2 linked regions of the Homo sapiens genome follow. The protein of the gene in region 2 purifies or fractionates together with the protein of the main gene of each other region. This does not show direct contact. Each region holds a gene or a part of one and is shown on either strand. Other genes may lie near its edges.

What was found.
Region 1: the proteins of ACTRT2 (region 2) and ACSL4 purify together in Homo sapiens (affinity purification with mass spectrometry; one large-scale study listed by BioGRID and IntAct). This does not show direct contact.

What each region holds. Positions count from the first base shown.
Region 1 is NC_000023.11:109,684,758-109,688,257, reverse strand, and holds part of ACSL4 (long-chain-fatty-acid--CoA ligase 4), read left to right. Parts: intron 1-2,813; exon of another isoform or gene 2,814-2,831; intron 2,832-3,500. UniProt on the Homo sapiens protein: Catalyzes the conversion of long-chain fatty acids to their active form acyl-CoA for both synthesis of cellular lipids, and degradation via beta-oxidation. Preferentially activates arachidonate and eicosapentaenoate as substrates.
Region 2 is NC_000001.11:3,019,995-3,023,403, forward strand, and holds ACTRT2 (actin-related protein T2), read left to right. Parts: upstream 1-1,472; 5' UTR 1,473-1,692; coding exon 1,693-2,826; 3' UTR 2,827-2,909; downstream 2,910-3,409.

The DNA.
Region 1 (3,500 bases), on a different chromosome or scaffold from region 2:
GAAAACAGCATGTGGCCACAGATTTGATTAGGTGGGTAGATGTAGCAGTGAGAGTCTGTGGAAATTATCTTTGGATTGTTGCTGTTTTGTCTGCAAAATAGGTCAGCTGCTGAGAATAAGTCTGGATGAGGAATGTTGGTGGTCTGAAGAGAGTAAAGTATGAAATCCAGAGGAGTGGGCCAGTGAGTGGACTAGTGCGGTGTGGTCTCTCTGCATCAGGGAGAGTCCATTTGAGGTAGCAATCACAAGTTTAAAGTGAGACACTCAACACAGTCATGTGTTTCTCACAGCAAATTCAGCTGCATAGGTACAGGTACAGATTAGGTGGAGAATTGGATAGGATAGAACCAGGCTGTGGTTGAGATGATTAAGTACAACCAAGTGAGACAACCAAGAGGGACTGAGTATGATTGCCTATGGAATTTAAGAGGAAGAAGACAAAGGTTTCTCACAAAAGCACTATAAAGTAGGTAATATAAGCAGTATTCCTGTTTTACAGATGAAGCCACTAATATAGAGCTTTCTTTTTTAAATCATACTTTAAATTCTGGGATACATGTGCAGAACGTGCAGGTTTGTTACATAGGTATACACGTGCCATGGTGGTTTGCTGCACCCATCAACCCATCATCTACGTTAGGTATTTCTCCTAATGCTATCCCTCCCCTAGCCCTCCATCCCCTGACAGGCCCCTGTGTGTGATGTAACCCTCCCTGTGTCCATGTTTTCTCATTGTTCAACTTCCACTTGTGAGTAAGAACATGCAGTGTTAAGTTTTCTGTTCCTGTGTTAGTTTGCTGAGAATGATGGTTTCCAGCTTCATCCATCTCCATGCAAAGGACATGAACTCATTGTTTTTTATGGCTGCATAGAACCACATTTTAAACCCAGATCTGTTAGCCTAGAAAATTTTTGTTGTTTCTCTTATGAGACATTATATTTTGCCTAATGATGGGTACGATGCTCAGCATCATACCCTTACCACCAACTCTTCTTTTTTTGAAGTGAAATGAAATGTTTAAATCTTTTTTGAAATGAATTTATCAATAGACTGAGTATAACCCCTGACAAGGAAGTATTATAGTTTAAGATGATAGGCAAAACTGGGCAGAGGCTGGCTAGTGTACTTGAAAGAGCACTGGGTGCTCGATTTGTGCTCTGCCATTCATTTGCTTCTCTGTAAGATGAGGGCTCAGACAATATCAGTGGTTCAAATATTCAGCTGAACTGGAAGTTCCAAGGAGTCCCTTCAGGGGCTGTCATAGCCTCCTCTACCAGAGCAGCTATGCTTTTTGCTTTCATCTACGCTTGTGTTTTTATATCTATATAAGATTTTATTCAAATGGATGACCCATGACCCCCTCACTACCTGCAGAAAGAATTTGAAAACCTCTAGACTAAATGATCTCTCTGGTTTCTTCTCACCTGAATGTTCTTTGAGCCTTGCCTACTGTGTGTGTGTGTGTGTGTGTGTGTGTGTGCATGCGTGTGTGTGTGTCTGTACTAAGCACTATGAGGATTACCTAGAAAGCATTTCTCTTTCTCTAAGACTTAAGGCAAATATGTATAAAAGATTAAATTTATGTAACATCAATAACTAAAAAACATACAATGCATTTTAAATCCAACTAAAGTACAGGCTCTTCAAAAGCTATTTTCTGTTTCTTTATATATTTTCAGCCTTAAGCCTGAAGATTTCTCAATTGAGGGTAAGGTGGTACTCACCCCTTAGGGGCATTTTATAAATCTGAAGACATGCTTTTATGTCTGCTAATATTGTCTCTGAGAATGTATGTATTGAAACAAGTATTTTGTTAAATTTTAAATTAGTTTCTTTATGGTACTCTTTTATATTACCAGTAAGAAATCATTTTTTAAAATGGTGTGTTGGTAGATTATGACTATCCTTTGATGTTGATGAAGAGGTATCACAAAATATTTGTCATAAGAAAGAGGTACTGGGTTTGATATGGTTGAGAACTACTGGTCCGTGTTCTATACTGTGGTACCCAGAAGTTTGGAAGTGATGGTAGTATAATCATGTATCAGATTGAGTGGTAGATATTGCTAATGATGTGTGAAATTAGAAAAAGTAAAGATTGTTCTGGACTTGGGTAGCCATGAAATCTTCAGTGGGAGGAGAGGATTGTTAGAGGGGATCTTACATTCAGCATTATGATAAACCCTTGACATGACATACCTTATCTTGAAGAAATGAATGACCAGACTTGTCCGAGAGACTAAGAAGGTACTTTCCAAGTAGGGTAAGTCATAGAATTTAAAGCTGGAAAGGCCCTAAGAATCACCTAGGCCAGACATTTTTAGTTCAGGGTTGTTGCCCTTTGAAGTTCATGGATGGATTTCAAGGAACTTGTGAATCACTTGACATTGTGTGTATCATTTAGCATGTCTTTCTGAGGGGAATTGGGTTCCTCGTTCTCATTCTCAAAAAGGCCCATCATCTCTAAGAGGTTAAGGCCTGCTGATCTAGTGTGGTCCCAGACTGAGGTAGATGGTTTGCTCAAGGTTACACAGCCAGTTAGGGGCAGAGATGAGGATTGACACCCAGTGACTTCCAGTTTCTTTCTCATTTCACTGTACTCAACTAAATTACATGAACAAAGGCACAGGCAGGATTAAGCTACCATTTTATATTAGATGGTATAAAAACAATCAACTAGCCTGGGGTCAATTGAATTAAGTCTGTCAGTCTGTTTCTACAAAAGTTGCAGAAGGATGGGCTTCAGTTTGTCTCTTCAAAGTGAACTAATATTTTGATTTTTCTGGTTGAAATATGCTACAACTCACCGAAGTAGCTTTCTCAGTTGAAGGTAAGCTCCTTAAAAAATGTTCCTATTCTTGGGCCGGGTGTGGTGGCCCCCGCCTGTAATCCCAGCACTTTGGGAGGCCATTGAGGGCAGATAGCTTGAGTCCAGGATTTTGAGAACAGCCTGAGCAACAATGGCAAAACCCCGTCTCTACAAAAAATGGAAAAAAACTAGCCAGGCATGGTGATGCACATCTGTGTTCCCAGCTACTCGGGAGGCTGAGGTGGGAGGATCTTTTGAGTCCGGGAGGCAGAGGTTGCAGTGAGCTGAGATCATGCCACTGCACTCTGGCCCGTGTGACAAAGTGAGACCTTGTCTCAAAAAAAAAAAAAAAAAAAAAAGAAAGAAAAGAAATATTACTATTCTTGAGCCTGTTTCTGCGGTTTCTTTCCAATGGCACTGTTTTTCTAACCTGCAGCAGCCCCCAGCTTTCCACATAATCCAATCAAAATTACTTTGCCTGATTTGTTAGATTTTGTAACTACCGTAGCGTATTTAGTCAAGCGTATTTAGCGTATTTAGTGTATGCTGTGCCCCAGTCAGACTAGTGTCCTTGCTATTGGTACTTCCTATTCTCCCAAAGTCCTTTCATTCCCACCTTCGTATCTTTTTTCATATGGTCCCTGAGCCTGGAATACCTTCCATTCCTCTTTCATTTCTAGATGCCCAACA
Region 2 (3,409 bases):
CCTCAGGGAGCCCGGGGTCTCTGAGACGACTGCAAGCAAGCTGTGTGGTGGCTGCCACAGTTTCCAGAGAAATGGAGATTTAAGAGCCACACCTGCCCTGGCACGCTTTTGACTCAGTTTCCCTCTGGGGGGGTCCCCTCTAGGAAAATCCTTCAATAATCAAGTTTTTGTTGACTACCACCCAGGGATTAGTGGGGCCCACAAAACCACGTGTCAACAAGACACATCTACACCACACATCAACAACGAGTGTACCGCGCGTGTCTACACCACCCATCTATCCCATGCATCTACACGGCACATCCATATGCGTCTGTACCTCGTGTCTACACCACATGTCTGTACCACGTGTCTAGACTGCCCATCTACAACATGTGTCTACACCACCATCGGATTAATGCCTGCTGGTGGGTCAGCAGGGCAGGCAGGACACACAGAGGGGGCCACCAGCAGGAGCTGAGGGGCTCCAGGAAGGGAGTGACCCCGGGAGGCGTCCTCTGGGAGAACTCTGGGGGGCCAAGCTGGGCTGGAGCATGATTGTGGATATGACAGGAGAGGTAGAATAAACCTCACATTCTCCAAGGCCACCTCCAACCTCCTTAGGAAAAAAGTGAAGCTGGTTCCCAGGTTGGATCCCCTCCCACTTTCTCCCCAAGCGGAAGACAAAGCGGGGGTCTGAGTGCCGGGCGTGCACTGTTGTGGGTGCCCTTGGCCTGGCCCGGTGCCTCCTTCCTGGTCATGCTCAGGCCTTGACCTTTAATGGCCTGGTCACCTCTGAGCATTGCTCTGTGGTTGTGGCCTGACTGTGTGGCAGCTCATAGACACAGAGAGGTGTCACAGGCTGCAATCCAGGCTACCCATGTGAAACCAGCAGGCCATATCTTCAGGGCTGTTGGGTTCCCAACTCTATGGCTGCTGGACTTTGTTGTGTGCTGGCACTTCAGAGTCTGCAGAGAGGAATGAGGGGTGCTGGCCTCAAGCCAGAGCAGAGATGTATTCCTGGACAAAGGGCCAGCAGCCCAGAGGGCTTTGAATAGGGTCTACCCAGTGGGACAGACAGCCAGGACTAATGGGATGGAGGGAGGAGAAATCCCTGAGAGCTTCCTGGGGGAATCACTATTCAAAAGCACATTCTAAGTGCCTGCTGGGACAGAACTGCTTACAACACCCCTCCGACCTGGTGCTTGGTTTTCCCCCTTAGCAAAGGGAAGTGTTGTCACCCCAGAAGTTGCAGCTCAGGGGCCAGAGAAGCTGGTTTTCTAGGGTGCACGCAGGCTGGGCTGCTTCTCTCCACTCTAAAGCTAAGTCTCTGCCTCAGCCCACAGGCTTGTCCAGCACCGCCCTAGGATGCACTTGTCTCTCTCTCTCTCTCTCACCTCACCCTGTGGGGGATGGGGGACTCAGAGCCCCACCCCCAGGGCCTCTGAGGCTCAGGACAATCGTTGCCTTGGCTAGATTGTTACCTAGGAGACAACCCCCTGGCCCCCTGGAAGAGGCCTCAGCAGGCCCAGGCCACCTGGAGGGAGAGCAGACCTGCGGCTGAGGATGCAGGGCTCCCGGGCACGGTGCTAGCCCTGCCTTGAGACACCCCGAGAGCTGTGGGAAGAGCTGTGGGATCCCCTATTGCATCACAAAGCGGCCCTGGAGGGCTGGTCTTTATTTTGATGAGGCTGAGAAGGGAAGGCTGCGGGCATGTTTAATCCGCACGCTTTAGACTCCCCGGCTGTGATTTTTGACAATGGCTCGGGGTTCTGCAAAGCGGGCCTGTCTGGGGAGTTTGGACCCCGGCACATGGTCAGCTCCATCGTGGGGCACCTGAAATTCCAGGCTCCCTCAGCAGAGGCCAACCAGAAGAAGTACTTTGTGGGGGAGGAGGCCCTGTACAAGCAGGAGGCCCTGCAGCTGCACTCCCCTTTCGAGCGTGGCCTGATCACAGGGTGGGATGACGTGGAGAGACTCTGGAAGCACCTCTTTGAGTGGGAGCTAGGCGTGAAACCCAGCGACCAGCCCCTGCTTGCAACGGAGCCCTCCCTGAACCCCAGGGAGAACCGTGAGAAGATGGCAGAAGTCATGTTCGAGAACTTCGGCGTGCCCGCTTTCTACCTGTCGGACCAGGCGGTGCTGGCTCTCTACGCCTCTGCCTGTGTCACGGGCCTGGTGGTGGACAGCGGGGATGCGGTCACCTGCACTGTCCCCATCTTTGAGGGTTACTCCCTGCCCCACGCAGTCACCAAGCTCCACGTGGCGGGCAGGGACATCACGGAGCTCCTCATGCAGCTGCTCCTGGCCAGCGGCCACACCTTCCCCTGCCAGCTGGACAAGGGTCTCGTGGACGACATCAAAAAGAAGCTGTGCTACGTGGCCTTGGAGCCCGAGAAGGAGCTTTCCCGGAGGCCGGAGGAGGTCCTGAGGGAGTACAAGCTGCCCGACGGGAACATCATCAGCCTCGGGGACCCGCTGCACCAGGCGCCCGAGGCCCTGTTCGTGCCCCAGCAGCTGGGCAGCCAGAGCCCCGGGCTCTCGAATATGGTCTCCAGCAGCATCACCAAGTGTGATACCGACATCCAGAAGATCCTCTTTGGGGAGATTGTGCTGTCGGGGGGCACTACCCTGTTCCACGGGCTGGATGACCGGCTTCTCAAGGAGCTGGAGCAGCTGGCCTCCAAGGACACCCCCATCAAGATCACGGCTCCCCCCGACCGGTGGTTCTCCACCTGGATTGGAGCCTCCATCGTCACCTCTCTGAGTAGCTTCAAGCAGATGTGGGTCACCGCCGCAGACTTCAAGGAGTTTGGGACCTCCGTGGTGCAGAGAAGATGCTTCTGAAGGCCGCTTCTCGTTGGGTACCGTGGGGGGTGAACCCTAGCCCCAGCTTTGGGAGGATGTTCAATAAAGGACCAATGCCGGAACACCTGGCCACCTCGGCTCAGTTCCTTCTTGGGGGCGGCAGAGTCATTTCTGGCCCTGACAGTGAATCTGTGAAGTGTCTTGGTCCACACCCGCTCCCCTTCGCTTCCTCCCAAGAAAGCCTGGGCTGAGGCCAGGCTGTGTCCATCTGCAGTTTGTATGAAAGTAGGGCCCTGGGCCTCAGGTGAATAGGGCGCTGGAGTCCGCATTCTAAACAAGGGTCTTAGGTGGGCTGAGAGAGTCGGCAGGGATGGTGGGGACTAGCGCGTGCACCAGGTTCTGACGGCTCAGCAAGAAACCCCTCCCTGTGTGGGCCCTACCTAGCATGCCAGGGCCGGGGCTCTGCTTGTGTGAGGCCGGGCGGCTGAACAGGGTGGAGCTGCCGCTCTCAGCAGATAGGAACAGACGGGAACAGAAGTCACCGTTTGTTTAGGGCCCTCTAAACTCAGGGGTCCTGCTCCCAAAGGAAGTACAAAGAATCAACACTTCTGCTTAGCAAGTG